Homo sapiens: one gene and its partner. The protein of the gene in region 1 binds, or shares a complex with, the protein of each later gene. Each region holds a gene or a part of one and is shown in the gene's direction. Other genes may lie near its edges.

Region 1 (4,094 bases):
TACTCTGTTGCTTAATTCTATAATTTCCAGAGAAAAGCTGTAGCTTGACTCAAACAGTGGGACCCTGAAAATTTGTTCTTTTTTAAAATTTTTTCTTGAGATGGAACCTTGCTCTGTTACCCAGGCTGGAGTACAGTGGTGTGATCTTGGCACACTGCAGCCTCCACCTCCCAGGTTCAAGCGATTCTCCTGCCTCACTCTCCTGAGTAGCTGGGACTATAGGTGTGCGCCACCATGCCCGGCTAAGTGTTTGTATTTCTAGTAGAGATGGGGTTTTGCCATATTGCCCAGCTGATCTCGAACTCCTGGCCTCAAGTGATCCACCTGCCTCAGCCTCCCAAAGTGCTGGGATTACAGGCGGAAGCCACCATACCCGGCCAAAGATTTGTTCTTGAAGTGTGACTAGGTGACTGCCTATTCACCTGAGTTATGGAGCCATGTTCCAAATCTTGTGCCTTCCTTCAGGTGTGTTTGGAAAGCACAAATGTGTACCTCAGTAGTTTCTTCTCTTGGTGGCAACTTGGAATGGGTGGGATACTCCCCGCCCCAATTCCCTCCCCTGCCCCTGCCCCGGGAGGTATCTTTGGCCATCACCGAGGACACAGGAAGGCACTCTGGGAGATGCCTGTCTCATGATGGGCTTCCTTATTAACTGTGCCTGTGTCTCCTTCGCGAGGCTCATACCTTCTTTGGTTTTCATGAGAAACCAAAAATATTGCATTCACTGTTTTTTTTCTCAATCGGAGTGTGATCAACTGCTTACGGGCTCTCAGGCTGACTCCCTGAGCATGGGCATGGCAGCACCTGGCAGCATCCCTGTGGTACGAGCCCAGCCTGTGGTGCTGGGGATGAAGGAGAAACTGAGAACTCTGTGTTGTCTTTCTCAGACAAGCCTTCATGTATTGTATTTTCTTTAAAGCCTGTTCTTTAGGGTCCAGGTCAAAATATGTACCAATTTCCTGGCAATAGGTCCCTCTTTAAAACAGTGAATTTTTTTTGGTATTTTATTGTGAAAAATTTCAAACGTACAAAAAAGACAAAAGAATTTATACTGTGAGCACCTATAGCTGGTACCTGGATTCTACAATTGGATTTTGCTCTGTTTCCATGAATCTGTATTGTTATTTTGTTGGATTACAAAGTAATTTTCAAACATCATACACATAAGCACATATATCATTAAGTAGAGTTTAATATTTGTTATGGTTCCTGGTTTTTTTTTTTTTTTTTGAGGTAAAATTTACATTCTGTGAAAGGCACAAATCCAAGCGTCCTATCTGATGAGTTTTAACAAATACACCCAGTTGTGTCACTCAAGCCGTTATCTAGATGTAGATTGTTCCCAGCACCTGAATTCCCTCGTGCCCTACCCAATGGGTCCCTTCTCACATCTTCCAGCTCCACCAGAGGCAGTCACTTTTCTTTTTTTTAAAATGATGTTTGAAAATTACTTTGTAATCCATCAAAATAACAACAGGTTTCCAGGACAGTTTAGCCTGTTCTAGAATTTAACATAAATACTTGTATACTCCTCCTGTGTAAAGCCCTTTGGCTTGGTGTGTTTTTGATATTCATCGATGTTGCTCCGTGTATCAGGAGTTTGCTCCTTTTTAACAGTGGACTTTTGAGCGATCATTGGAAGTACCCAGAGCATTGACATAGGAGTCCTCCTTGCCAAATGGAAAGACTGCCATTGACCTTACCAGCCAACCAAAGAGGGGCAGGACATTTGGAAAATCAAGTGGATTCTCCAGCTGGGCTGTTAGAAAAGAACTCACTTCTGTGGAGAATCACTGGATTTTATAGGCTTAGCTCTAGAAAGCATCATTTTGTCATCTTCTGAAATGACAATAATTATCCAATTACATCTCTCCTTTCTGTCATTTTACACCCACAGTTGAAGATTCCTGTCTCTGGATCCAAATCAGAGGGCCTTCTCTACGTCCACTCATCCAGAGGTGGCCCCTTTCAGAGGTATCCTGGGAAGGTGACGGCAGTGGGGGAGCGGGAGGAAGACTTCCTGATGAAAGCAACCCCAACTCCGTTTTCATTTGTTGTTAAATTACTGTGGGCATAGGAAGAATTATTTTTCAAGCTTGAAGCTGAAAGCTTCGTGGCCTGGGCAGCAAGCCAGTACTGCGGCTCTTAGCTGAGTCCAGTTTATCCATACAGTCTACTGAATTGCCCTCTCCTTATGCCGTTGAATTTGTAAAACTTTCCAGTTATAGTGATCTGGGTCTATCATAATTTGATGCTATGTTACAGCTTCTCACTTGACTGCCTCAATTGTTATAAATGAATAAAGGGCATGGACTCTTGTTCCAGAATTTATTCATCACATTCTTTGCATAAGCTCTCCACCCCTTAATTGGCTTTGCTTGTCTGGTTGCCAATAGCTACATCCACTCACTTCCCCCACGGGAAGCCTCTCTCATAGATGTTTGCTGTTTAGCCAGGCTGTATTTTAATTCCCAAGGACAAAAGGAGCAGGAGGCCCCACCTAGCTCACCCTGGGCTCACTGACCTCTGAGCCTGGGATTAGTGTACAAGCTGGCTGGATTCCATGCCAGGAACTGAAGGTCACTGTGAATTAGGAAATGAGAAATAAACTGCTCCTTCTTCCTGATGTCCCTTCCATTCGCCTGTCAGTCATTGTTAAGCCTGCCTTGAAGTCGAAGCTGGTTAAATAATGAGAGCCCATGGTAGAATGTTAAAAATTGTGTTGACACAGCACTCGCACAAAATAATGTTTAAAAAAATTTAAGGCATTATTCAAAACAACTGCTTTCCGCGCCCCTTTTTTTGACTACGGCTGTTGCCTCAGCCTTCATAGATTAGAGATACTATACTTTTGGTTTCTCTCAGGTGGCACCTTGACGAGGTCTTTTTAGAGCTCAAGGATGGTCAGCAGATTCCTGTGTTCAAGCTCAGTGGGGAAAACGGTGATGAAGTGAAAAAGGAGTAGAGACGACCCAGAAGACCCAGCTTGCTTCTAGTCCATCCTTCCCTCATCTCTACCATATGGCCACTGGGGTGGTGGCCCATCTCAGTGACAGACACTCCTGCAACCCAGTTTTCCAGCCACCAGTGGGATGATGGTATGTGCCAGCACATGGTAATTTTGGTGTAATTCTAACTTGGGCACAACAAATGCTATTTGTCATTTTTAAACTGAATCCGAAAGAAACTCCTATTATAAATTTAAGATAATGTAATGTATTTGAAAGTGCTTTGTATAAAAAAGCACATGATAAAAGGAATCAGAATTAATAAAATGTTTGTTGATCTTTGCTAGTTCTCATTTCTTTCCTTTCTCTTCCTCTTCCTTTCCCCTGGAATTTTCAGTCCTCATTACAAAGCCTGAAGCTTAGTAGCACTGAAGGGATTTTTTCTAAATTATTGACCTGAGAATGATGAGGAAGACCACTGGTTTTTCACTCTACCTTGAATTCATGTTGTTAAGTAGCTTGTGGACATTCTCTATCACTTTGGAATATTTTGTTTGCTTTGCTTTTATTTATTTCTATTTCAGACACCAACCATCTGCCCAGTTGAAGATTTGCAAAATAATTGTTTTTATTCCAAACATTTTGAAAGCTTAGAAAATTTATATGTGTACATATACATATAAAGTTAACTTAGGAAAGTTAGTTTGAAGCTAACAGCATCTGGCTGGGTGTGGTGGCCCATGCCTGTAATCCCAGCAATTTGGGAGGCCAAGGCAGGCGGATCACCTGAGGTCAGGAGTTTGAGACCAGCCTGGCCAACATGGTGAAACCTCGTCTCTACTGAAAATACAAAAAATTAGCCAGGCGTGGTGGCGGGCGCCTGTAATCCCAGCTACCTGGGAGGCTGAGGTGGGAGAATTGCTTGAATCCAGGAGGCAGAGGCTGCAGTGAGCCAAGATTTCATCACTGCACTCCAGCCTGGGCAACAAGAGCAAAACTCTGTCTCAGAAAAAAAAAAAAAAAAAAAAAAAAGGAAAGAAAAAGAAGGGAAAGGGAAGGAAAGGAAAAAGAAAGCTAATAGGTTCTTATCCATCTGCTTTCCAAACAACTTAACCGCATGTTAGATAATTGTATCCTTAGGTTTTA
Region 2 (3,049 bases), on another chromosome or scaffold:
AGCCTGACTGCCTTCTCGGAATGAGGAGAGAGGAAAACAGCAACAGTATCAGTATGTTAGCCTTCTACACTAAATCTCAAGCAAGCCAACCTTTCAGACCTTCAGTTTGCTCATATGTATAGAAATAATCATTATACTACCAATTTCTCAAGTTAGTGTGTAAATCAGAAAGCCAATGTCTGTATTGTAGGATGTTTAGCAAGAAAATAAAAAATAATAACAAAAAGCCAATGTCTAACAGATAATAAGAGCTCAGTAAATGTTGATTGAATTACTAACAAAGTATGTGAAAGCAGACGACACAGTACCTGGCACACTACTAAACTGTAAATGTTTTCAAATCTGAATCTGTAGAATTCTGTAAGGTTTTATGTAATATGAATATCATTAGCTATTATGGCTCTGGAATTTTTTTTTCCAGGTTTTCAAGATGGCAGCATCTATGCATGGTCAGCCCAGTCCTTCTCTAGAAGATGCAAAACTCAGAAGACCAATGGTCATAGAAATCATAGAAAAAAATTTTGACTATCTTAGAAAAGAAATGTAAGAGAAATGCCCAGGCTGAAAATCAGTCATTTTATTTGCAAGTCTTTTGTATTGCCATTGTTTCTAAGATCCTATTCTTTCTTACCTTTTCTGTTATCTAAGATCCTATTCTTTGAGTTGGCTATGAAGAACACATCTTTAAAAAAAAGAATGGGGGAAACAAGAACAGATGAAAATGGTGGTTTGTTGGAATATTTCGGATTGTGGATAATTTCTTTTGTTTCTTAAAAAGTATCCAAAAGTATTGCTAAAACTTTTGTGCAGTAAATGTATTTTAATTAAAAGTAATTAGGAGAAAACCATTGAGGGGGGTACTTATATTTAATTGGTGAGTAATTATAATCAGTTTAGGATTGATTATCTCAGCCACAGTACTTAGTACAGCAAAAGGGAATACAGATTTCATGGTATAAATATAGTCTCACATTAACATATTGACTTTTTTTTTTGAGATAAGAGTCTCACTCTGTCACCCAGGCTGGAGTGCAGTGGCACAATCTCGGCTCACTGCAATCTCCAGCTCCCAGGTTCAAGTGATTCTCCTGCCTCAGCCTCCCAAGTAGCTGGGATTACAGGCGTGTACCACCACAACCAGCTAATTTTTGTATTTTTAGTAGAGATGGTTTAACCATGTTGGCCAGACTGGCCATTTTGACTTTTAAATGAACAAAGTTCAAGAAAAAAATCAAAGGACAGTTGATGTTATTTCCTGGATTTACATATGGGTCTTAATAAGAAAACTAAATCAGATTTTTTTGGATGAAGTTTTATAAATCTTGGACAAATTATTTTATTTTATTTTATTTTATTTCATTTTCTGTTTTATGGCTTTATTGAAGTATAATTTATATATCTTGACATTCATCCATTTAAAGTGTACAGTTATATGAGTTTTAGCAAATTTATACAGTTATGTAACCATCACCACAATTAAAATTTGGAATACTTCCAACATCCCCAAAAAGTTCCCTCATTCCCTTTTATTTTTTTTTATTTTATTATTATTATACTTTAAGTTTTAGGGTACATGTGCACAATGTGCAGGTTAGTTACATATGTATACATGTGCCATGCTGGTGTGCTGCACCCATTAACTCATCATTTAGCATTAGGTAGATCTCCTAAAGCTATCCCTCCCCTCTCCTCCCACCCCACAACAGTCCCCAGAGTGTGATGTTCCCCTTCCTGTGTCCATGTGTTCTCATTGTTCATTTCCCACCTATGAGTGAGAATATGCGGTGTTTGGTTTTTTGTTCTTGCAATAGTTTACTGAGAATGATGATTTCCAACTTCATCCATGTCCCTACAAAGGACATGAACTCATCATTTTTTATGGCTGCATAGTATTCCATGGTGTATATGTGCCACATTTTCTTAATCCAGTCTATCATTGCTGGACATTTGGGTTGGTTCCAAGTCTTTGCTATTGTGAATAGTGCCACAATAAACATACGTGTGCATGTGTCTTTATAGCAGCATGATTTATAGTCCTTTGGGTATATACCCAGTAATGGGATGGCTGGGTCAAATGGTATTTCTAGTTCTAGATCCCTGAGGAATCGTGACACTGACTTCCACAATGGTTGAACTAGTTTACAGTCCCACCAACAGTGTAAAAGTGTTCCTATTTCTCCACATCCTCTCCAGCACCTGTTGTTTCCTGACTTTTTAATGATTGCCATTCTAATTCATGTGAGATGGTATCTCATTGTGGTTTTGATTTGCATTTCTCTGATGGCCAGTGATGGTGAGCATTTTTTCATGTGTTTTTTGGCTGCATAAATGTCTTCTTTTGAGAAGTGTCTGTTCAGGACAAATTATTTTAAATGTATCTGGGACTAATGAAGAAATAGAAGGCCTAACCAAATGTAAACAGCTTTTTTTTAGATGAACTTAAGCAAAGTAAATCTTTTAGTTGCAGGAAAGGTATTCTTGGATTTGGGTAGCTCATAAAATTTGGCTGCATTGGAACATATTTATATTTATTTGTGGCCAAAATTATTTAAAAGAGCTCTATTTTAGAATTACTGTAAATATTCTTAGAAAGAGAATCATGTCCTCTCATTAGAATACAAGTTCTATGAGGGGTGGGAAATTTCTTTTTTTCTTTTGCTTTGTTTACTGTCCTATCTTAAGCACTTAGAAAATACTTTTCACATATAGTAAGTGCTCAAGAAATATTTGATATTGATATGCAATAACAACTTTTCAGGAGAGGCTGTATCCATTAAGTTCAATGGTATAGTGAACTGAATTTTTCTTTTTTTCTATTAGGACACAAAATATATATCAAATGGCGACATTTGGAACAACAGCTGGTTTCTCTGGAATATTCTCAAACTTCCTGTTCAGACGCTGCTTCAAGGTTAAACATGATGCTTTGAAGACATATGCATCATTGGCTACACTTCCATTTTTGTCTACTGTTGTTACTGACAAGCTTTTTGTAATTGATGCTTTGTATTCAGGTGAATTTAAATTCACTAATGTATAACGTAGTTAT

What was found.
Region 2: COA1 (region 1) and TMEM126B share a complex: the UniProt entries of both Homo sapiens proteins name them as parts of the mitochondrial complex.

The regions. Positions count from the first base shown.
Region 1 is NC_000007.14:43,638,453-43,642,546, reverse strand, and holds the end of COA1 (cytochrome c oxidase assembly factor 1 homolog), read left to right. Parts: intron 1-1,897; coding exon 1,898-1,974; intron 1,975-2,865; coding exon 2,866-2,965; 3' UTR 2,966-3,290; downstream 3,291-4,094. UniProt on the Homo sapiens protein: Component of the MITRAC (mitochondrial translation regulation assembly intermediate of cytochrome c oxidase complex) complex, that regulates cytochrome c oxidase assembly.
Region 2 is NC_000011.10:85,631,266-85,634,314, forward strand, and holds part of TMEM126B (complex I assembly factor TMEM126B, mitochondrial), read left to right. Parts: exon of another isoform or gene 1-51; intron 52-421; coding exon 422-543; intron 544-2,820; coding exon 2,821-3,014; coding exon of another isoform or gene 3,015-3,040; exon of another isoform or gene 3,041-3,049. UniProt on the Homo sapiens protein: As part of the MCIA complex, involved in the assembly of the mitochondrial complex I. Participates in constructing the membrane arm of complex I.